3 separate regions of the Homo sapiens genome follow, and regions 2 and 3 are each linked to region 1. Evidence: fine-mapped QTL for protein levels in blood plasma. A gene starts in region 1. Each other region holds a variant in brackets. All regions are shown on one strand. Distances are between the middles of the regions. Region 1 holds the start of FCRLB (Fc receptor like B). Region 2 has its middle 12 kb from the start of FCRLA. Region 3 overlaps FCGR3B (Fc gamma receptor IIIb).

Evidence for each region. A credible set is the group of variants that fine-mapping cannot tell apart. PIP is the chance, under the fine-mapping model, that this variant and not a neighbour inherited with it causes the effect. The UK Biobank Pharma Proteomics Project read protein levels with antibody pairs (Olink). The fine-mapping took linkage between variants from a reference panel, not from the people measured, so its PIPs are less certain.
Region 2: its variant is the best candidate, but not a certain one, in a credible set for the plasma level of the FCRLB protein (UK Biobank, PIP 0.52).
Region 3: its variant is the best candidate, but not a certain one, in a credible set for the plasma level of the FCRLB protein (UK Biobank, PIP 0.80).

The regions. Positions count from the first base shown.
Region 1 is chr1:161,717,180-161,725,359 of GRCh38, reverse strand. FCRLB (Fc receptor like B) reads right to left here and starts at 3,816. Exons shown (of 8, transcript NM_001002901.4): 1 at 3,699-3,816; 2 at 3,510-3,605; 3 at 2,657-2,707; 4 at 2,351-2,371; 5 at 1,739-1,993. The coding sequence starts at 2,687. RefSeq lists enhancers at 2,755-2,854, 2,935-3,034 and a silencer at 6,414-6,463.
Region 2 is chr1:161,691,137-161,699,305 of GRCh38, reverse strand. No RefSeq gene overlaps it. Among named protein-coding and RNA genes, the nearest start is that of FCRLA, 12 kb to the left of the region's middle. The variant C/T (reference allele first, on the strand shown) is at 632.
Region 3 is chr1:161,616,319-161,624,464 of GRCh38, reverse strand. It overlaps FCGR3B (Fc gamma receptor IIIb), which reads left to right. Exons shown (of 5, transcript NM_001244753.2): 5 at 1-1,269. It also overlaps the pseudogene RPS23P9. Among named protein-coding and RNA genes, the nearest start is that of TRL-CAA6-1, 8.4 kb to the right of the region's middle. The variant G/A (reference allele first, on the strand shown) is at 1,133.

The DNA.
Region 1 (8,180 bases):
CTCCCACTGCTTTCTTGAGCGGACAGGCCTTCCCTGGTGGTTGGCACCCAGCAGCCTCATAGTGCAAGATATATTTGTAGGTGAGTGGGAAGGAAGGGGGATGGCTGGTCTTTCACTTAGCCAGGGAGCAAAGATGCCAGAGACTTGGCTCCACCCTCAAAGGGTTTTGACCATGAGAATCAACTATAACCTCCTTAGGATGGTGTCAGAGTCCTCCTGACTGGGTCCTGCTTACCTCTCCCTCACCATGGCAGTATTCATTCCTGCCCCATTTCCTCTCTACTTTCCTCATCTTCCACTCCTAACAGGATAAGTTCCAGCCATACTGAACTGTTGAGAGAACTGGCCCTGCTCTGAGCCCGAGGCTTTTGTACCTGCTATTTCCTCAGCCAAGAAGACTCTCTTTCACCTGTTTAAGTTCACCTGCTTGTCCTGCATGTCTAGGCTTAGACCTTATCTCCTCCAGAAAACATCCCTGACACCCCAGGAGAGCCTTAGGTATCTCCTACAGCACCTCATAATTACCCTGTGATCATTATAGCACGCTTACATAGCCCTAGCACAGAGCAGATGCCATTTTAGGTGTTGTACATTGAGAAAGAATCCTGCAAGTAATAGCCACAATCCACATGCACTCCCAATCTGTAAGCAGTAATTACTCCTATAGTACTCAGTATAATTATTGCTATCACCAATGATTTCCGAACAAGAAACCACAGAGTATGAATATGAAGTGTGTGTAAGTGCTAATCTGAACATTGAGTGATGTGCTTTAAATTCTGAATACAAATTGTGGCTAGGAGTGCACGATCTCAGCTCACTGCAACTTCCGCCTCCCAGGTTCAAACAATTCTCATGCCTCAGCCTCCTGAGTAGCTGGGACTACAGGCACCCGCTATCATGCCCAGCTATTTTTTTTTTTTTTTTTTTTTTTAGTAGAGAGTGTTTCACCATGTTGGCCAGGCTGGTCTTGAACTCCTGACCTCAGGTGATCTGCCCGCCTTGGCCTCCCAAAGTGCTGGGATCACAGGCTTGAGCCACCGTGCCCAGCAATCCTGTACTTTATTGAACAAATTATTGTTATTTTTCTTATCCTGTTTTAAAACCCTTCAAGCATCTCGAGAATCAGTTTCTCAGCTGACTCCTGTGTACACATATACACGTCTGCAATAAAACTTTGAGTAAGTGCTCAGTTCAATTGCTGCTTTTTTTCTTTAGCAAATCATAATTCACTTTTAATCCTCAGAGCAGCCGAAGAGATACATACTATTATTGTCCCTTCTTTACAGATGTGGACACTGAGGCACAGAGAAGCATCACACTGTTCAACTGAGAGTAGATCCTTGATCTATGCTCAGACTGCCAGGGAAACTCACCTTTCCTGTTTGGTGAATTTCCTTTACTGCTCCCTCCCCAACCCCCTAAAGTTCTCTGTCCAGCACTCCAGGTCCTTGGAGCCTTTGCTCTTCTGAGCTGGTCTCAGAAACAAACAGAAATGTTCACACTGTGCCTCACACTATGGCAGGAGGGTAAGGGGACCTTGGGGGCTAGGCATGCCTTACTGCATCTCTCGCATAGTGCCGTGCAGGTCCCTACCTGCTCCAGAGACTTAAGATAGGCCCCAGTGTGGCCCTTGTTTCCTGCACCTTGGGATTGGCCCAGTGTTCCCTCCCACCAGAGGACTAGTATTGCCAGAGGAGACACGTGCTCCCCCTCCCCTCGTGCTCAGTCCACTCACCATTGGATACAGAGAGGTGGATGGGGTCACTGACGGGTGCTCCCCGTGTCTGGCATCGATACACCCCTGGTGTCTGCACCTCAATGCTCTTCTTGTGAGAGGGCAGAAGTAGGTGGCCCAAATACCAGAGAGTGCTGATGGGCTGGAGCTCCAGGAGCAGTGGGTGGTATCCATCACACTTCAAAGTTACCCGCTCCCCTTTGAAGATGGTGGTCCAAGGTGGATGTAGAGACAATATGGGCTTCTCCAGAGTAGCTGGGGTGGGGAGTGGGGTGAGAGGGGGCAGCATGCAAAGAGAATCAAGGTGAGGTGCCCAAAGAAACGACCTGAGTTTGGGAAATCTTAGGAAACCCCAGCTCGCAGGCCCCAGCCCATGTACTAACCCATCCCTGCAGGAGAGGAGATCACATTCATTGGGTTACAGACTACCAGTCCATCAGCCAGCACCCATTTCTAAATGCCTTCAAGCAAATTTAGTCCCAGGGGTTGACGAGAGTGGGAAGAGACACTATCCCAGCGCAGCCAAGAAGTGAGGAGTCTACTTGAAAAGGTCACTTAGGGGGTTGGAGTGGAAGCTGTAGAAAATTGGGATGAGAAATTTATAAGACTCACCAGCTTGCCCACTGCTTGGAACTGCAGAACAGGAAAGAAGGAAGAGGAAGGAGAAGGAGAATATTGGCGATGAGAGGAGAGAGACTCTTGACGACAAGAAAGGCTGAATGGTCCCAAAACCTGTTTTTCTTCTTCTGCCCCTGGTTTCCCAAGCTCTGAGAAAGCCCCTTCTTCTTCACCCCTCCAAAAAAAGATAATGAACCACTTGGAAACTGAGGATTGGATACCCACCCTCCTCTCCCCATACCTTGGTCCACCCTATTCTCCACCACCCAAAGCTCTTCTGCTGCCTCACTGTGGACTCACCCAGGAGCAGAAGGGCTGTCAGTGGCCACATGATGGATCTGACTGCAGCAGCTGCAGAAGGATGGAGATGCACTGGCATGAGATGGGGAACAGAGAGAAAGAATGTGGCCAGTGGATGCCACTGAGTACTAGGAGACATTGCTGCTTCTCCCACCCACTCCTAGTTCCTGAAGATAGCAGACCAGAACCAGTGGGAGACAGGCTGAATATCAGGTATCCCAAGTGCCAGGCACTGTCTCATCTACCGCATCTACAGCCACCTCACAGCTCAGGCCAGCCCTGACTACTGAAAGGAAGGCCTGCAGAACTTGTGCCCTCCACAGCACAAGAGAGCCCCATAGAACCCCAGGCTCCAGCAGATGACCCCGCCATCTTCAGGCTCCCATTGACATCCCACTCCCATCCCATCCCTTCTCCACCTTCCAGCCAGCCCTGCAAGGCTCAGCTGAGGAAGACACGGCCTCATGTCCTTAAGGACCTTTTTCCTGCTCACTCCTGATGACAGACATTGGCATGAGACCTAGAGAGGTCAGTGTTCGGTTGCCTGCCCCCAGAGCTCACATCCTGCCACAATGAGTAGACGAAAAGGCATGACTCACCAACCACCCTTCACATCCCTATCATCTAGTTCCCCAGTCAAGGATAGAAATGCAATGTGTTTCTTCTTCCTCCCTTCCTGAAATCTTGAGTTCTCATAAATTCTTAAATTCTTAAGAAGTTAGAAAACTCTTCTTTCCTACCCATCCCAATGAGCTCATCCTGTGGCACTTCCAATCACTTGTTCTTTTCTTCCTTCCTCCCACCCTTCCCTGCAACCCCTCCCCAGCCACGCCCCAGTTCCAGAACTCCTGACCTGCAGCAGAGAAGTCACTGCATCGGCCCCTCAGAAGCCTCTCAGATCTGACCTCGGGGCTCTACTTCTTGTGCTTTCTGAGCCATGTGACCGTACCTGAGCAATGAGGAGAACCTGAATTTTCATGTAAATACTTAATGAATTTTCCAGCCTGATAGTGTGTCTCCTTGGACTCTATCCTGTCCTTACCTGTGGTTGTTTAGAACCGGGGCACCTTGATCCCTTGGAAATCTGATGGGAAGGAGATCAATTATCAGGTACTGTCAACTCCCAGGAAGATAGTATCTTCCCCTCTTGCTGATGCCTGAAGTTCCACTCTGAGAGTCCCCTCATATTTTGCTTAATGGACTAGCCCCTTTTAAAAATGCAAATGCCTCTTAGGAAAATGTGACTGGTCATTTAAATTATGCTGGTCACTTCAGATCATGTTTTGAGTGCAGGTTTTGATAAAAGAGATAGAGTCCTGTAGATTTCAAACAAAGTAGGGACATATTTGACAATGTGCCCAAGAGTAGGGGAGGCAGAGAAGAACTAATTACTGGGAACAGGGATGATCACCTGCCTGCTTTAGGAGTGCCTGGGCTGACCAGCACTCTTGTGCTTCCCCTCCATCCTAATAATTCCTCGTCTCAGGGCCAGTGTGTGGCTTCCCACATGATCCACAGCCTGCCACAGAGGTCTGACTTCTGCACCAAGCCACCACCTCAATGGTAAGAATGCAATGCAGTTGTCAGCTGTCCTCTTAGGCAACACAAGCTGGCTCTATTTTGGCTTCTCATCCCCCAGAGCACAGATCTCAGCCCCTTTACTCGATTCAGAAGAAACCTTAGTACACCAAAACTTTGTGAACTGTATAGTCGTCCCTAGAAACCTCTGGAACCATCCATACTGTTCATATTATACAGTGCTCAGAATTTGACTTGAAAAATTTCCCACGAAATATTTATTTATTCTAGGCTCTCCTCTAAGTTTTTCCCAAAGTGAGTCTTTTTACTCCATCTAGGACTTTTCCCCAGAATTTCTAATTCTTCACTCCTTTACAATGCAGAAAAATTTAGAAATTATCATTTGTAACTTGAGCAATTATTTGAGGCCTATCACAACATAACATCTGGACAATATATGTCACCATTTGATAAGCATTCTGGTGATAAAGTGTTCTCAGTGATAATTACAGTAATGAACTAATGCTGTTGTTGCTGATGACAGCTCACTTTAGTGTCTCGGCATGTGGCAGGCACTATGCTAAGTGCTTCACAGATATTACTGCACTTAATTCTTGTAAGGCCCTTTGAGGAAGAATTATTAATATCCCAATTTTGCATATGAGGAAACTGAGATGATGAAACTGGGATTTGAATAGAAGTCTGTCTCCAAAATCTGTTCTCTTATCTCTCTGATTGTCAGGGATTCAAGATGCTGCTCATGGCCGGCTGTCATTATTGGTCTTTGCAAGTTCCCCCTCTTATTGTCTTACCTTGTTGACTTTCACCCACATTATTGTCCTCCTCCCCTCCACATAAGCACCCACTGTAAAATGTTTACTGTGTGTTCCCATATACATGCTATTTTTTTTTGTGCTTTAAGTTCTAGGGTACATGTGCACAACGTGCAGGTTTGTTACATATGTATACATGTGCCATGTTGGTGTGCTGCACCCATTAACTCGTCATTTACATTAGGTATAACATGCAGTTTTTAGCTTTGAGAAATATTTAGTGTTGTTAATTTACATAAGTGGCATTGTGTTCTAGATATTATATTCACTTCTACTTTTAAAAATTAATCCCAGATGTTTCAAATTTGTTCAGATTGCTCTACATGCATCATGTTTATTGCTTTTGACTGCCCTAATATTCTTTTTTTTTGAGACGCAGTTTTGCTCTTATTACCCAGTCTGGCATGCAATGGCATGATATCAGCTCACTGCAACCTCCACCTCCTGGGTTCAAGCAGTTCTCCTGCCTCAGCCTCCTGAGTAGCTGGGATTACAGGCGTGCATCACCACGCCTGGCTAATTTTGTGTTTTTAGCAGAGATGGGGTTTCACCATGTTGGCCAGGCTGGTCTTGGACTCCTGACCTCAGGTGATCCACCCACCTCAGCCTCCCAAAGTGCTGGGATTACAGGCATGAGCCACTGCGCCCAGCCATGACTGCCCTAATATTCTATGCTTCTGCTACACTGCACTTGTCCATTCCCCTAACATCCTAGTTGCTGCCCACCCTCAGCTACCACAGACAATTCCACAATGGACTTCTTGGTACATATTGTGAGGGCTGGATGAATTAACATATGTAAAGGGCTTAGAACAGGGGTTGGCACATAGGAAGTTTCATGTAAGTTAGTACTGGTAAGGACATGATGCTTCCCTACAGAGCCCTGAAGCGCCTTTATGGGATACACACCTGAGAGCAAGACTGCAGAATTATGTTCATGAGTTACATGCACACTCATTCCAAAACTCAAATCTAATTCATCAGCAAGTCCTGATGACTCTACCTGCTACATTGATCTTTTTGTACAGTAATTTATTCACTGAGTCGCTAGAGAGATACTTTTAAAATGTTAACCATATTGTGTTACTTTCTCTCAAAATTCCCCATAGGTACCCTCAGAATAAGTTCCAAACACCTTCCCATGGTCTACAGGGCCCTACAAATCGGGCCTTTCTCTGACCCTTGGCCTCATTTCCTACAACTCTCCCCCTCACTCACTCTGATCTAGCCACATTGTGTTTAGAACAGTTGCTGGAACATTCCATGCTTAGTCTTGCTCCAGGGCCTCACTTGCTGTTCTTTCTGCCTGAAAGATTCTTATTCTCCTCCCAGATTTTTGTAAGTTTCACTTCCTCACTTCACTCAAATATTACTTCCTCAGAGAGATGGTCGCTAACCGTGCTATCTAAAATAGTATCTCCTCACTGTCATTTGCTGGCTCCATATTTTGCTTTATTTCTCTTCAATGTACTTGTCACCACCCGGAATTGTATTTGTTTGTTTGTGGTAGGTTCCCCCATTAGAATGTAAGCTCCATTGAGGCAGGAATTTTTTCTTTTTTGCTGATGTATCACCTACAGCAGTGACAGCACATAGCACGTGCTGTGTAAGTATTTGTGGCATAAACAAAGGAAGAGATTGAATACCGTGATATTACTCTCAAAAGTGGCTGCAGAAGCTTATACACCCACCAGCAATTCACGTGGCTCCCATTCCCTCTTGTCATCAATATTCAGTGTTTCTTACCTTTGTAATTTTATCAAACAAATTTTTCTTTTCCTAAATAAGAACATTTAAAATTATTCTTATTTTATTTTCTGTAACCCAGGATAGGGCTGATAATAATATATTTTTTAAAATTGCTATTGCTATTCTTTTTTTTTTTTTTTTAGACGGAGTTTCACTCTTCTTGCCCAGGCTGGAGTGCAATGGTGCAATCTCAGCTCACCACAACCTCTGCCTCCTGGATTCAAGCAATTCTCCTGCCTCAGCCTCCCGAGTAGCTGGGATTACAGGCATGCGCCACCATGCCTAGCTAGTTTTGTATTTTTAGTAGAAACAGGGTTTCTCCATGTTGGTCAGGCTAGTCTCGAACTCCAGACCTCAGGTGATCCGCCCGCCTCAGCCTCCCAAAGTGTTGGGATTACAGGCGTGAGCCACCGTGCCCGGCATAAAATTATATTCTTTAATGTAAACTTTTCAGCAAAAGGAAGGCATTTCGATACCAAAGGAGTGCAAAGGACAATTTCAGAATAGAGAGCAGAGTATTTCTTTACATTGAATGTCTTTAGCTTTATGAGAAATTCACACATAGTTAATGAAAACTAACAGTGCCTGTCTGAAGGAACTCTGGCAGGAAGGCTGTGCTGTAACTCTCCGTATTTCTCCACATCTCCTCTTGTCCAGTGGGAAGGGAGAAGGTTGATACCAAGAGGGAAGAAAACTTTTAAGAAGACAGGACTAGGGTGAGGCCTATCCCAACACACCCTCCTTAAACTTCCTCCTATGATTCTAGCAGGTCATTTTATCCCTTCCCTAGTCTCTTCTAAGTTGTAACTGAACCAAGTTTTTCTACCTTGGGCTACTGGGCTGGGTACAGAGAGCTTTGTGTTTGGGAGGTGCAATGCTACTCCATATCTGATCACCCAGACCTGTTAACACCTCTCAGATCATTACTCTCTATTCCTCCTGTCCCTAGCCAAGGCCCTTGTCTCAGAAGGCTGGATGAGAACAACAGCCTTCAAATCCACCTCCCTCAACCTCTCTTCTAGTCGCCCCATTCACCTTATACCAGAGTGCCAGAATAATCATCCTAAACATCACTTTTCACGAGTTCCTCCTTTACTCAAAATTTACCTACAGAATTCGATCAATTTTCTTATGGACATTTAAAGAGCCTCTATAGCACATTTAAGAGCCTCTGTAGTCTATTTACTTCTCCATTATTATTTCCTTCCGCTGAACTCTGTTTCAAAGGATTTGCCTTCTTTTTCCCTGACATCTGCATGCCAGTTTTCCCCTTTATGCCCTTGCTTACATCATCCCACTCTGGAACGTCCTTTCCTCTCTTCTCCTGTTCTGTAGATCTGTCATGTTTTTCAAGGCCCCACCCATGTATTATCTTCTTCATGAGATGCACCTGAACACTCCAGTCCCCAGTGAGCGATCTATTC
Region 2 (8,169 bases), 26 kb after region 1:
TAATTTTTATTTTACTTTAAGTTCTGGGATACATGTGCAGAAAGTGCAGGTTGTTACATAGGTATACAAGTGCCATGGTGGTTTGCTGCACCTATCAACCCATTATCTAGGTTTTAAGTCCCGCATACATTAGGTATTTGTTCTAATGCTCTTCTTCCCCTTACCCCTACCCCCTGACAGAGCCTGGTGTGTGATATTACCCTCCCTGTGTCCATGTGTTCTCATTGTTCAACTCCCACTTATGAATGACAACATGTGGTGTTTGGTTTTCTGTTCCTGTGTTAGTTTGCTGAGAATGATGGTTTCCAGCTTCATCCATTTCCCTGTAAAGGACGTGAACTCATCCTTTTTTATGGCTGCATAGTATCCCACTGTTTATATGTCCCACATTTTCTTTCTCCAGTCTATCATTGATGGGCATTTGGGTGGGTTCCAAATCTTTGCTATTGTAAATAGTGCTGCAATAAACATATGTGTGCAGGTGTCTTTATAGTAGAATGATTTATAATCCTTTGGGTATATACCCAGTAATGAGATTGCTGGGTCAAATGGTATTTCTGGTTCTAGATCATTGAGGAATCACCACACTGTCTTCTTCCACAATGGTTGAACTAATTTACACCCCCACCAA[C/T]AGTGTAAAAGCGCTCCTGTTTCTCTATCTGTTGTTTCCTGACTTCTTAATAATCACCATTCTAACTGGTGTGAGATGGTATCTCATTGTGGTTTTGGTTTGCATGTCTCTAATGACCAGTGATGATGAGCTTTTTAAAATATGTTTGTTGGCCCCATAAATGTCTTCTTTTGAGAAGTGTCTGTTCATAACCTTCGCCCACTTTTTGATTGTTTTTTTCTTGTAAATTTGTTTAAGCTCCTTGTAGATTCTGGATATTAGACCTTTGTCAGATGGGTAGCTTGCAAAACTTTTCTCCCATTCTGTAGGTTGCCTGTTCACTCTGGTGATAGTTTCTTTTGTTGTGCAGAAGCTCTTTAGTTTGATTAGATCCCATTTGTCAATTTTGGCTTTTGTTGCCATTGCTTTTGGTGTTTTAGTCATGAAGTCTTTGCCCATGCCTATGTCCTGAATGGCATTGCCTAGGTTTTCTTCTAGGGTTTTTATGGTTTTAGATTTTTACATTTAAGTCTTTAATCTATCTCGAGTTAATTTTTGTATAAGGTGTAAGGAAGGGGTCCAGTTTCTGTTTTCTGCATATGGCTAGCCAGTTTTCCCAGCACCATTTATTAAATAGGGAATCCTTTGCCCATTGTTTGTTTTTGTCAGGTCTGTCAAAGATCAGATGGTTATAGATGTGTGGCATTATTTCTAAGGTCTCTGTTCTGTTCCATTGGTCTACATATCTGTTTTGGTACCAGTATCATGCATTTTGGTTACTGTAGCCTTGTAGTTTTGTTTGAAGTCAGGTTGCATGATGCCTCCAGCTTTGTTCTTTTTGCTTAGGATTGTCTTGGCTATACGGGCTGCTTTTTGGTTCCACACGAAATTTAAAGTAGTTTTTTCTAAGTCTGCAAAGAAAGTCAATGGTAGTTTCATGGGAATAGCATTGAATCTATAAATTACTTTGGGCAGTATGGCCATTTTCATGATATTGATTCTTCCTATCCATGAGCATGGAATGTTTTTCCATTTGTTTGTATACTCTCTTATTTCCTTGAGCAGTGGTTTGTAGTTTTCCTTGAAGAGGTCCTTCATGTCCCTTGTAAGTTGTATTCCTTGGTATTTTATTCTCTTTGTAGCAATTGTGAATGGGAGTTCACTCATGATTTGGCTGTCTCTCTGTTGGTGGTGTATAGGAATGCTTGTGATTTTTGCACATTGATTTTGTATCCTGAGACTTTGCTGAAGTTGCTTATCACCTTAAGGAGTTTTGGGGCTGAGACAATGGGGTTTTCTAAATATACAATCATGTCGTCTACAAACAGAGACAATCTGACTTCTTCTCTTCTTATTTGAATACCCTTTACTTCTTTCTCTTGCCTGATTGCCTGGGCCAGAACTTCCAATACCATGTTGAATAGGAGTGATGAGAGAGGGCATCCTTGTCTTGTGCTGGTTTTCAAAGGGAATGCTTCCAGCTTTTGCCCATTTGGTATGATATTGGCTATGGGTTTGTCATAAATAGCTCTGATTATTTTGAGATATTTTCCATCAATACCTAGTTTATTGAGAGTTTTTAGCATGAAGGGATGTTGAATTTTATCGAAGGCCTTCTCTGCATCTATTGAGATAATCATGTGGTTTTTGTCATTGGTTCTGTTTATGTGATGGATTACCTTTATTGATTTGTGTATGTTGAACAAGCCTTGCATCCCAGGGATGAAGCCAACTTGACCATGGTGGATAAGCTTTTTGATGTGCTGCTGGATTTGGTTTGCCAGCATTTTATTGAGGATTTTCTCATCGGTGTCCATCAGGGATATTGGCCTGACATTTTCTTTTTTAGTTGTGTATCTGCCAGGTTTTGGTATCAGGATGATGCTGGCCGCATAAAATGAGTTAGAGATGAGTCCCTCTTTATCTATTATTTGGAATAGTTTCAGAAAGAATGGTACCAGCCTCTTTATACCTCTGGTAGAATTCAGCTGTGAATCTGTCTGGTCCTGGGCTTTTTTTGGTTGGTAGGTTATTAACTACTGCCTCAATTTCGGAACTTGTTATTGGTCTATTCAGGGATTCAACTTCTTCCTGGTTTAGTCTTGGGAGGGTGTATGTGTCAAGCAACTTATTCATTTCTTCTAGAATTTCTTGTTTATTTGTGTAGAAGTGTTTGTAGTATTCTCTGATGGTAGTTTGTATTTCTGTGGGATCAGTGGTGATATTCCTTTTATCATTTTTTTGCACATCTATTTGATTCCCCTCTCTCTTCTTTATTAGTCTAGCTAGTGGTCCATGTATTTTGTTAATCTTTTCAAAAAACCAGCTCCTGGATTCACTGATTTTTTGAAGTGTTTTTCATGTCTCTTATATATTTCAGTTCTGCACTGATCTTAGTTATTTCTTGTCTTCTGCTAGTTTTTGAATTTGTTTGCTCTTGCTTCTCCAGTTCTTTTAATTGTGATGTTAGGGTGGTGATTTTAGATCTTTCCAGCTTTCTGTTGTGGGCATTTAGTGCTATAAATTTCCCTCTACACACTGCTTTAGCTTTGTCCCAGAGATTCTGGTATGCTGTCTCTTTGTTCTCATTGGTTTCAAAGAACTTCTTTATTTCTGTCATAATTTCATTATTTACTCAGTAGTCATTCAGGAGCAGGTTGTTCAATTTCCATGTAGTTTTGCAGTTTTGAGTGAGTTTCTTAAACCTGAGTTCTAACTTGATTGCACTGTGGTCTGAGAGACTGTTTGTTATGCTTTCTGTTCTTTTGCATTTGCTGAGGAGTGTTTTTCTTCCAATTATGTATTAAATTTTAGAATATGCGCTATGTGATGCTAAGAAGAACGTATATTCAGTTGATTTGGGGTGGAGAGTTCTGTAGATGTCTATTAGGTCCACTCGGTCTAGAGTTGAGTTCAAGTCCTGAATATCCTTGTTAATTTTCTGTCTCATTGATCTGTCTAATATTGACAGTGGGGTGTTAAAGTCTCCCACTATTATTGTGTGGGAGTCTAAGTCTCTTTGTATGTCTCTAAGAACTTGTTTTATGAATCTGGGTGCTCCTGTATTGGATGCATATATATTTAGTATAGTTAGCTCTTCTTGTTGCATTGATCCCTTTACCTTTATGTAATGCCCTTCTTTGTCTTTTTTGATCTTTGTTGGTTTAAAGTCTGTTTTATCGGAGACTAGGATTGCAACCCCAGTTTTGTTTGTTTGTTTTTGTTTTGTTTTGTTTTTTGTTTTCCATTTGCTTGGTAAATATTCCTCCATCCCTTTATTTTGAGCCCATGTGTGTCTTTGCACGTGAGATGGGTCTCCCAAATACAGCACACCAATGGGTCTTGACTCTGTATCCAATTTGCCAACCCGTGTCTTTTAATTGGGGCATTTAGCCCATTTACATTTAAGGTTAATATTGTTATGTGTGAATTTGATCCTGTCATCATGCTGCTAGCTGGTTATTTTGCACATTAGTTGATGCAGTTTCTTCATAGTGTCATTGGTCTTTATATTTTGGCGTGTTTTTGCAGTGGCTGGTACCAGCTTTTCCTTTCCATATTTAATGCTTCCTTCAGGAGCTGTTGGAAGGCAGGCCTGGTGGTGGCAAAATCCCTCTGCATTTGCTTGTCTGGAAAGGATTTTATTTCTCCATTTATGAAGTTTAGTTTGGCTGGATATGAAATTCTGGGTTGAAAGTTCTTTTTTTAAGAATGTTGAATATTGGCCCCCACTCTCTTCTAGCTTGTAGGGTTTCTGAAGAGAGATCTGCTGTTAGTCTGAGGGGCTTCCCTTTATAGATAACCTGACCTTTCTCATTGGCTGCCCTTAAAATTTTTTCCTTCATTTTGACCTTGGAGAATCTGAAGATTACGTGTCTTGGGGTTGCTCTTCTTGAGGATTATCTTAGTGGTGTTCTCTGTATGTCCTGAAGTTGAATGTTGGCCTGTCTTGCTAGGTTGGGGAAGTTCTCCAGAATAATATCCTAAAGTGTGTTTTCCAACTTGGTTCCATTCTCCCCGTCACTTTCAGGTACACCAATCAATTATAGGTTTGGTCTGTTCACACAGTCCCATATTTCTTGGAGGCTTTGTTCATTCCTTTTCATTCTTTTTTCTCTAATATTTTCTTCATGCCTTATTTCAGTAAGTTGATCTTCAATCTCTGATATCCTTTCTTCCACTTGATCAATTTGGCTACTGATACTTGTGTATGCTTCACGAAGTTCTCGTGCTGTGTTTTTCAGCTCCATCAGGTCATTTATGTTCCTCTCTAAACTGGTTATTCTAGTTAGTAGTTCCTGTAACCTTTTATCAAGGTTCTTAGCTTCCCTGCATTAGGTTAGAACATGCTCCTTTAGCTCAGAGGAGTTTGTTATTACCCACCTTCTGAAGCCTACTTCTGTCAATTCGTCATTCTCATTCTCCTTCCAGTTTTGTGCCCTTGCTAGAGAGGAGTTGTGATCATTTGGAGGAGAAGAGGCATTCTGGTTTTTGGAGTTTTCAGTGTTTTTGCATTGGTTTTTCCTCATCTTCATGGATTTATCTACCTTTGATCCTTGAGGCTGATGACCTTTGGATGGGGTTTTGGTGTGGGGTTCCTTTATGTTGATGTTGATGTTGTTGCTTTCTGTTTGTTAGTTTTTCTTCTAATAGGTCCCTCTTGTGCAGTTTGCTGGAGGTCCACTCCAGACCCTGTTCACCTGGGTATCACCAGTGGAGGCTGCAGAACAGCAAAGACTGCTGCCTGCTCCTTCCTCTGGAAGCTTCATCCCAGAGGGTCACCAGCCTCATGCCAGCCAGAGCTCTCCTGTATGAGGTGTCTGTCAACCCCTGTTGGGAGGTTTCTCCCAGTCAGGAGACTCGGGGGTCAGGGACCCACTTGAGGAGGCAGTCTGTCCCTTAGCAGAGCTGGTGCGCTATGCTGGGAGAATCCCGCTAGTCAGGATCAGCTGCTCTCTTCAGAGCCAGCAGGCAGGAACAATTAAATCCGCTGAAGCTGTGCCCACAGCCGCCCCTTCCCTCAGGTGCTCTGTCCAGGGAGATGGTGGTTTTGTCTGTAAGCCCCTGACTGGTGCTGTTACCTTTCCTTCACAGATGCCCTGCCCAGTGAGGAGGAATCTAGAGAAGCAGTCTGGCCACAGCCGCTTTGCCACGCCCAGCCCAGACCTCCCAGCCTCCTAACCACTGTCTGAAAAATCGCCTACTGAAGTCTCAGTAATGGCGGACGCCCCTCCCATGACCAAGCTCAATTGTCCCAGGTCTACTTCAGACTGCTGTGCTGGCAGCGAGAATTTCCAGCCAGTGGTTCTTAGCTTGCTGGGCTCTGTGGGAGTGGGACCTGCTGAGCGAGACCACTTGGCTCCCTGGCTTCAGCCCCCTTTCCAGGGGAGTGAATGGTTCTGTCTCACTGGGGTTCCAGGAGCCACTGGGGTACAAAAAAACTCCTGCGGCTAGCTCCGTGTCTGCCCAAACAGCTGCCCAGTTTTGTGCTTGAAACCCAGGGCCCCAGTGGTGTAGGCACACGAGGGAATCTCCTGATGTGCAGATTGCAAAAACCGTGGGAAAAGCGTAGTAACCCAGCTGGGTAACACAGTTCCTCACAGCTTCCATTGGCTGGGGGAAGGGAGGTCCCTGGCCCCTTGCACTTCCTGGGTGGAGCATCACCCCATCTTGCTTCTGCTCGCTCTCCACGGGTTGGACCCACTGCCTAACCATTTCCAGTGAGATGAACTGGTTACCTCAGTTGGAGATACAGAAATCACCAGCCTTCTGAGTTGGTCTCGCTGGGAGCTGCAGACCAGAGCTGTTCCTATTTAGCCATCTTGGCCCCTCCCCCCTTGAAAATTCCATTTCTTTAATAGATATAGGGCTATTGAGGCTATTTCTCCTTAAATGAACCTAGATAGTTTGTGTGCAGCTGTCAAGGAATTTGTCCATTTTATCTAAGTTGTCATATTTATCTATATAAAGTTTTTCATAATATTCGTTTATTATCTATTTACCGTCTATAGCAGTACTGATGGCTTTTGAATACTAGCACGGCTAATTGCAAATCTATAGTCATGTCACCTGTCTCATTCCTAAGATTTAAAAATGCACTGCAGGACACAAAGTTATTCCACACACCTCGACTTAGCTTATTTGTGTATTTCTTCCAAGAGAAAAAAAAAAAAGAGGCCAGGCATGGTGGCTCACGCCTGTAATCCCAGCACTTTGGGAGGCTGAGGCAGGTGGATCACTTTAGGTCAGGAGTTTGAGATCAGCCTGGCCAACATGGCGAAACTCCGTCTCTACTAAAATACAAAAAGTAGCTGGTCGTGGCGGGCGCCTATAGTTCTAGCTACTGGGTAGGCAGAGGCAGGAGAATCGCTTGAACCCGGGAGGCAGAGGTTGCAGCGAGCCAAGATAGAGCCACTGCACTTCATCCTGGGCGACAAAGTGAGACTCCGTCTCAAAAAAACAAAACAAAAAAAAAAGGAAGGTAAGAGAAGCACAGAGAGAGGGATGGAGAGAGGAAGGGGAGAGGGAAAGAGAAAGAAAGAATTCACTCAGAACCAGTTTCAGGTTGTTCAGGTAGAAGCTGGAAGTCTCCACATAAGCTAGACATGAATTGACATGCCCCTTTCTGGGTACCTATTTCATCACCTGTTAAACTTTTAGAATACACATTCAGAAAGCATACACAAAGATGCTCTGAGTTCTCCCATGCACCAGATCTCCCACGCACCAGGGAGTGGCCCCAGTTTCTAAGGAAAGCCAATCCCTTACCGTCAGGTCACTGGAATTATGGGAAGCTCATTCTACTGCCAGGTGGGCCTCATTTTCGTAAAGAAAACTCACATATTCCTGGAAGACAGTGTCCTGGGCTATTTTTTCTACCTGACTGCTAGCAGCAAATAAAATATTTAAGAATTTATGGAGTATAGTGCCCTGAATTCCTTCCCTTGGAAATTGAAATTGCTTGAGGTTCTTAGGCCACAAACAATTTTTAAAATAGGTGTATGTTTTTTTTCTTACTCTCTTTGTGATGGCTCTGCAGATTTGTTCAGCAAAATGACTCCTTAACAGAGTTATCCTGAGCTGGTATATCAGAGACAGGAAGGCTTCTGCTGGAGCCTAAGGTTTCTCTCCTCTCTCTTAGCTGCTTTATTTGAGACTGCCAGCATAGGGCACAGCCTTCAACTCTCAGCTCACCATGGATTTGTTAATTAATTGAAATAATTCTCCCAATTTTTGCATTGAAGTAGAATATCTTACAGAACCATGAGCTTCTTTCCCCTAACATGAATAACTGAGAAAATGAAGGTATCAGTGATCCACTTCCAATTTGACAGAGCAATTTTACAAGTATTTATTTTGTGCAGGAGTATATAGATGTAAATTAAAACATTATTGCTCAGGCGACAGATTTTGAAATAATATCAAAATGAAGAATGGATTTATTTTTGAAGATAATTTTCACAGGATGTGGCAGTTTTTAAAGGAATTCTGCAAGTTCTCATTGCTCAAATTTTACTTCCAAGGACAGATTGTTATCAACAGAACAGGTTGCAAACAAA
Region 3 (8,146 bases), 100 kb after region 1:
TCAAGACACATGACCCCCATCCCATGGGGGTAATAAGAGCAGTGGCAGCAGCATCTCTGAACATTTCTCTGGATTTGCAACCCCATCATCCTCAGGCCTCTCTACAAGCAGCAGGAAACATAGAACTCAGAGCCAGATCCTTTATCCAACTCTCGATTTTTCCTTGGTCTCCAGTGGAAGGGAAAAGCCCATGATCTTCAAGCAGGGAAGCCCCAGTGAGTAGCTGCATTCCTAGAAATTGAAGTTTCAGAGCTACACAAACACTTTTTCTGTCCCAACCATTCCCTCACAGCAAAGCAACAATACAGGCTAGGGATGGTAATCCTTTAAACATACAAAAATTGCTCGTATTATAAATTACCCAGTTTAGAGGGAAAAAAAGAAAATAATTATTCCTAAACAAATGGATAAGTAGAATTAATGGTTGAGGCAGGACCCTACAGAGTGTGGGAACTGCTGGGGATCTAGAGAATTCAGTGGGACCAATGAAAGCATGGCTGAGAAATAGCAGGGTAGTCCAGGATAGTCTAAGGGAGGTGTTCCCATCTGAGCCCAGAGATAAGGGTGTCTTCCTAGAACATTAGCCGTAGTGGAATTAACAGGAAATCATGAGGGTGACGTAGAATTGAGTCTTCCAGGGGACTCTATCAGAACTGGACCATTTCCAAGTATATAACGATGAGTCCTCTAATGCTAGGAGTAGAAAATGGTCCTAGGAAGGGGACTGAGGATTGGGGTGGGGGTGGGGTGGAAAAGAAAGTACAGAACAAACCCTGTGTCACTGTCTCAAGTTAAGCTAAGTGAACAGAACTATCTCAGCATCAGAATGAGAAAGCCTGAGAAGAAAGAACCAACCAGAAGCACACAGGAAGGAAAGCGCAGGAGGTGAAAATGCTTTCTTGGCCGGGGTAGTAAGAATTAGAGGTTAATGCAGGGACTGTAAAACCACCTTTTCTGCTTCAATGTCTAGTTCCTGTATAGCTTTGTTCATTGCATTTATTAAACAAATGTTGTATAACCAATACTAAATGTACTACTGAGCTTCACTGAGTTACGCTGTGAAACTTTCAAATCCTTCTTCATGTCAGTTCCAATGAGGTGGGGATGGAGAAGACAATTGTTGCTTATGAAA[G/A]AAAGCTTTAGCTGTCTCTGTTTTGTAAGCTTTCAGTGCAACATTTCTTGGTTCCAATAAAGCATTTTACAAGATCTTGCATGCTACTCTTAGATAGAAGATGGCAAAACCATGGTAATAAAATATGAATGATAAAATTCTTTCTTCTTCCCTTTGTCCAACATTGTAACAGAGATTGGTTTGGATTGGTAAGAAACACCCCCTCCTCCCAGCAGCCATCTCACCACAACTCATATGAATTAGCCAGCTTGCTTTCCAAATCTTGCTGAGAAAATTGGGCTAAGGGGGATTCTTATGGGAAGTATGGGATAGGAGGGTGAATAAGCATTAGAGATCGTTTTAGAGCATTGGGGCAGATAGGAGAAGGCACAGCTACACAGGAGGTAGAGGCCTGGGCAGAGGTAGAGGGTCAGCCTGATTGTATGAATTATGAGCTATATACCAAGACGATTCAAGCTAGATTACATACATAAATATTACATAAGATTCCGACACGACACAGGTGCATTTGGAAACCTTGGACATTCAACTCACATTTATTTACTACCTACAATGTGCAAGCTTGAGTTCAGGTGCTGAAGATACCAGATGAACAACACAGGGTCATTCCCTGGAGAAGCTTTATTTCTAGTGAGAAAAACAGTTAAATAGGAAGAGAATGAAGAAAGGGCTGCAGAAAAGAGGCTTGATTTGGGGGGTGTGGTCATGAAGGATGAGTAGGAGTTCGCCAGGCAAAGAAGAGAAGAAAAGCCCAAGGTTCATAGGCAAAGATTCAAAAGCCAGAGTGTGAGTTCAAGAAAGCAGTTTGGTTCTGTGTCGGTGAGGGAGAGGAAAGAGTTTCAGGGCCAGATCATGAAGGGCATTACCTTCCAAACTAAGAAGATCGTATCAGACCCTGCAATACATTGAGAGAGTTTAAGCAGACCAGGTTTATACCGTATAGTATTTTAGAAGGATTCTCTGGCAACTACTTGATGGATGGACGGGACAGGAGAGCTGAAGACCGGAAACCAGATAGGGCATGCAAGGCAGGATGCAATAACCCAAAGGGAGCAATGAGGAAGTAACTGGCGGTGAGGCTGGAGAGGAAGGTGCTTAATCAACAAGGTATTTAGGAGGCCGACTCTCCAAGAATTGGCAGCCGGCAGTACATGGCATGACTAAGGACCAGGTTCCACACATAGTGCCCGTTTTCTGAGTTAGGAAATAGAAAGGCAAGGCAGGTACAGGTTTGGTGGAAAGACAAACAATTTGTTTTGGTATTATTAGTACTTACTTCCTTTGGTCAGTAAATTTTCTTAAAGTGTCAGTTTCCATAACGTAATTGCAGTGGTTAAGCAGCTAAGAGTTATCACTACAACCCTAGTCGGAAAAACCAAATACCTCAAAATTACCCGTACAGCACTAAGGCAGAAGAGGACATTGGGAACCACACAACGCGGAGGTCAGCTGCCAGGGATCCCGGCGGTTAGCACCGCGGCTGGTTTTGAGAGCCAAGGCTCCAGCGCTCCCGGCGGATAGCATCGCACGCGGTTTTTTTCAGTGAAAGTTTCAAAAACTCAAGGTTCACAAAAGTGGGACTTCTGTCCCGGGGTGGGAACGAACCACCAACCTTTCGTTTAACAGCCGAAGGCGCTAACCGATCGCGCTACAGAAACGGGCGTTGGCGACCTGGGCTGCCAAGTCACTTCACTGAAGAAAAAATGCTCAGCACTCTTACGTCTCCAAAAAATTTGAAGTTGATTTGAAACCAGTGACACAATTAGCTTTCCGTGCTTCAGGGCGCGGCTCACAGCCCTGAGCGAGGCAGGTCTTTTTTCCGCGCTAGCACTTGCCTAGATCTGGAGCAGGACTCAGCTTCCAGCAGAAGAGGCTGAGAAAGGGAGAGCAGAAGAGGATGCAGGAACGAAGGGTCTTCGGGGAATCCAAAATGGATGCTCTCTGTGATTTCGGGGGTTCCGTTGATTTTGGTCAGAGAAATACGACGATAAGCTTTTTTTGCTGATGTAGACAACTTATGTATGCATGTGCACACGTTTAGTGCTGACTCATAAAAAGGTTATTGTCGTGAGCATTAAAAATATTTTCTTTCAGGTCCAATCACGTCCAGCAAAATGTGATATCTAAGTAAGTGAGTTTTGTGTTACAAAATTAGTCTTCAACCCACGCTGTTTTGAAAGGTTTCTACGGGCATATTAGCCATGCAGACAGAACACGGAGCTTAAAAAGCCTGTAACATTCCAATTAATGGTATTCAGCTTGGAAATAAAAAATATTTTTTAAAAAATGCCTGCAACTTAAGGACTTTCATGCTGACATATCCAGATCCAAATGTCTGAGGACAGAGACCCCTAATTCCACCACCATCGACCTAGGGAATCTCGTCAGTGCTGGGTCTAAAAAGCCTTTTTTTTCTTTAATTCATATATATATACTTCAAGTTCTAGGCTACATGTGCACAAGGTGCAGGTTTGTTACATATGTATACATGTGCCATGTTGGTGTGCTGCACCCATTAACTCGTCATTTACATTAGGTGTTTTTCCTAATGTTATCCCTCCCCCCTTCCCCACCCACGACAGGTCCCGGTGTGTGATGTTCCCCACCCGTGCACACGTAAGTTTATTGCGGAAATATTCACAATAGCAAAGACTTGGAACCAACCCAAATGTCCATCAATGATAGACTGGAGTAAGAAAATGTGGCACATATACACTATAGAATACTATGCAGCCATAAAAAAGGATGAGTTCATGTCCTTTGTAGGGACATAGATGAAGCTGGAAACCATCAGTCTAAACAAACTTTCGCAAGGACAGAAAATCAAACACCGCATGTTCTCACTCATAGGTGGGAATTGAGCAATAAGAACACTTGGACAAAAGCCATTTTCTATACTGCCCAAGACCCAGGGCCTCTCCATAGCCTCCACACAGAATCTCCTTTCTTTCTGCCCTGCCATCCTCTGTCATCAGTGGGCTCCAGTTTAGTTGCAGGTGGAAGTTTTCAATGATGTTTAGTGAAATGAGAAGACATGCAAACATAGATATGCATATGCAGAAATTATATATGCATATATGTTTATGTGTACACATATTTTATATCTTATGTAAAATACATATATGTGTATCATATGTATACTAAATAAGTAAATAAATAAATTTGCCAAATGATCTTTAAACTAGAGTCATTTATTTTTTTTTAATTAATTTTTTTTTTTGAGATGGAGTCTTGCTCTGTTGCCCAGGCTGGAGTGCAGTGGTGCGATTTCGGCTCACTGCAACCTCCACCTCCCACATTCAAGCAATTCTCCTGCCTCAGCCTCCTGAGTAGCTGAGAAGATTACAGTCATGGGCCACCATGCCCGGCTAATTTTTGTGTTTTTTTTTTTTTTTTTGAGACAGAGTCTCGCTGTCGCCCAGGTTGGAATGCAGTGGCGCGATCTCGGCTCACTGCAGGCTCCGCCCCGCAAGGTTCACGCCATTCTCCTGCCTCAGCCTCCCGAGTAGCTGGGACTATAGGCGCCTGCCACCTCGCCCAGCTAATTTTTTTGTATTTTTAGCAGAGATGGGCTTTCGCTATATTGGCCAGGCTGGTCTCAAACTCCTGACCACAGGTGATCCTCCCGCCTCAGACTCCCAAAGTGCTGGGATTACAGGCAAGAGCCACCGTACCAGGCCTAGAGTCATTTCTTTTATTTTAAATTTTTGTCTCTGTTCTTTTGCTCAGACCTGTGGAGCTGGCAATATGGGCAAGTGTCATGGACTGTCTACCTCCAGGAAGCTCCATTGTCACCGACAGGATCAGAAGTGGCATGGTAAATGGTACAAGAAAGCCCATTCGGGCACAGTCCTGAAGACCAGCCCTTTTGGAGGTGCTTCTCATGCAAAGGGAATTGGGCTGGAAAAAGTAGGGATTGGAGCCAAATAGCCCAGCTCTGCCACTGAGAAGTGTGCCAGGGCCAAGCTGATCATCCAGCATAAGCTAGATGCTGTGGTCTCCACTGGCACAGCTGATCCTCTTGTTACAGGTTGGAGGCTGTGAGGCAGATGAGAGAACAGCAAGAAAATCACAGCCTTTGTACCTGATGATGATTGCTTGAATTTTATTGAAAAAAATGATGAAGTTCTGTATCAGGGGAACCAGCACCCAATATTTCAATGTAGGTTCTTTTCTATTTTCCCTAAGTGTTGACCGGTCTGAGAAATGAAGAGAAAGAGTACAAAGAGAAAAATTTTACTGCTGGGCCGCCAGGGGTGACATCACATATTGGCAGGTTCCATGATGCCCACCTGAGCCACAAAACCAGCAAGTTTTTATTAGGGATTCTAAAAGGGGAGGGGGTGTACAAACAGGGAGTAAGTCACAAAGATCACATGCTTCAAAGGGCGATAAAAGATCACAAGGCAAGGCAAAATTAGAATTACTGATGAGGGCCTATGTCCCGCTGTGCACACATTGTCTTGATAAACATCTTAACAGGAAACAGGGTTCGAGAGCAGACAACTGGTCTGACTAGAATTTACCAGGCTGGAATTTCCCAATCCTAGTAAGCCTGAGGGTACTGCAGGAGACCAGGGTGTATTTCAGTCCTTATCTCAACCACATAAGACTGAGACTCCCAGAGCGGCCATCTATAGACCTACCCCCAGGAATGCATTCCTTCCCCAGGGCTATCAATTATTAATATTCCTTGTGGGGAAAAGAATTCAGCAATATTTCTCCTACTCACATGTCCATCTATAGGCTCTCTGCAAGAAGAAAAATATGACACTATTCTGCCCGACCCCACAGGCAGTCAGACCTTACAGTTATCTTTCCTTGTTCCCTGAAAATTGCTGTTATTCTGTTCTTTTTCAGGGTGCGCTGATTTCATATTGTTCAAACACAGATGTTTTACAATTTGTACAGTTAACGCAACCATCACAGGGTCCTGAGGTGACACACATCCTCAGCTTACGAAGATGACAGGATTAAGAGATTAAAGAGAGGCATAAGAAATTATAAGAGTATTGATTGGGGAAGCGATAAATGTCCATGAATTCTTCACAATTTATGTTCAGAGATTGCAGTAAAGACAGGTGTAAGAAATTATAAAAGTATTAATTTTGGAAACTGACAAATGTCCATGAAATCATCACAATTTATGTTCTTCTGCCTCGGCTCCAGCTGGTCCCTCCGTTCAGGGTCCCTGACTTCCTGCAACAGTTCTGGTTGCTGGATTTGGCAGAAAAGGTCATGCTGTTGGTGATATTCCTGGAGTCCACCTTAAAGTTGTTAAAGTAGCCAATGTCTCTCTTTTGGCCCTATCAAAAGCAAGGAGGAAAGACCAAGCTCATCAGCTTTAATGGTGAAAACCCAATAGTAATAAGTTTTCATTTGCCAAAATAAGTTGTTTTTAAATGTCCTTTCTTTTTTAAAATTAAAATTAGGATAGATGATAGTTTTGTGGCTATTTGTTTTATGAATTTCACAATTTGGCAAAATGAAAAGTTGGCCACCCTATACTAGTAACCAACTTTTCTGATGTCATTAGAGACAGGGTCTTGCTCTATCACCTAGGTTGGAGTGTAGCTGCACGATCTTAGCTCACTGCAGCCTGCAACTCTCAAGCTCAAGCAATCCTCCTGCCTTAGCTTCCCAAGTAGTTGGGATTACAGGCTTGAGCCACCTCGCCTGGCCAGTAACCAACATTGTGGGGAAATTTTGTTCATCTGTGAAGTTCAAGTTTGGAACTACCACTCTGTGCTTTACCTCCATTGTTGGATTGACAGCAGAAATAAAAAGTTATTAGTTTCCAGTTGATTGTGAATACACATACATTTCCTGTGCTACATTTTACATGTATGTGACAGCAATGCAAAAGCAGGAGAGTAAAAAGGAAGAATTTTTAAAGAATAAAAGAATAGCTCTCCCTCTCCCTCTCCCCCTCCCCCTCCCCTCCCCCTCTCCCCACAGTCTCTCTCTCCCTCTCTTTCCACGGTCTCCCTCTGATGCCCAGCCGAAGCTGCACTGTGCTGCTGCCATCTCGGCTTACTGCAACCTACCTGCCTGATTCTCCTGCCTCAGCCTGCCGAGTGCCTGCGATTGCAGGCGCACGCCGCCACGCCTGACTGGTTTTCGTATTTTTTTGGTGGAGACGGGGTTTCGCCGTGTTGGCCGTGCTGGTCTCCAGCTCCTAACCGCGAGTGATCTGCCAGCCTCGGCCTCCCAAGGTGCCGGGATTGCAGACGGAGTCTCGTTCACTCAGTGCTCAATGTTGCCCAGGCTGGAGTGCAGTGGCGTGGTCTCGGCTAGCTACAACCTCCACCTCCCAGCCGCCTGACTTGGCCTCCCAAAGTGCCGAGATTGCAGCCTCTGCCCGGCTGCCACCCCGTCTGGGAAGTGAGGAGCGTCTCTGCCTGGCCTCCCATCGTCTGGGATGTGAGGAGCCCCTCTGCCCGGCTGCCCAGTCTGGGAAGTGAGGAGAGCCTCTTCCTGGCCTCCATCCCATCTAGGAAGTGAGGAGCATCTCTGCCCGGCTGCCCATCGTCTGAGATGTGGGGAGCGCCTCTGCCCCGCCGCCACGTCTGGGATGTGAGGAGCACCTCTGCCCGGCCGCGACCCCGTCTGGGAGGTGAGGAGCGTCTCTGCCCAGCCGCCCCGTCTGAGAAGTGAGGAGCCCCTCCGCCCGGCAGCCGCCCCGTCTGGGAAGTGAGGAGCGCCTCTGCCCGGCAGCCACCCCATCTGGGAGGGAGATGGGGGGCGACTCTGCCCTGCCACCGCCCCGTCCGGGAGGTGGGGGGTGCCTCTGCCCGTCTGCCCCTTCTGGGAAGTGAGGAGCCCCTCTGCCCAGCCGCCACCCCGTCTGTGAGCTATACCCAACAGCTCGTTGAGAACGGGCCATGATGACGATGGCGGTTTTGTGGAATAGAAAAGGGGGAAATGTGGGGAAAAGATAGAGAAATCAGATTGTTGCTGTGTCTGTGTAGAAAGAAGTAGACATGGGAAACTCCATTTTGTTCTGTACTAAGA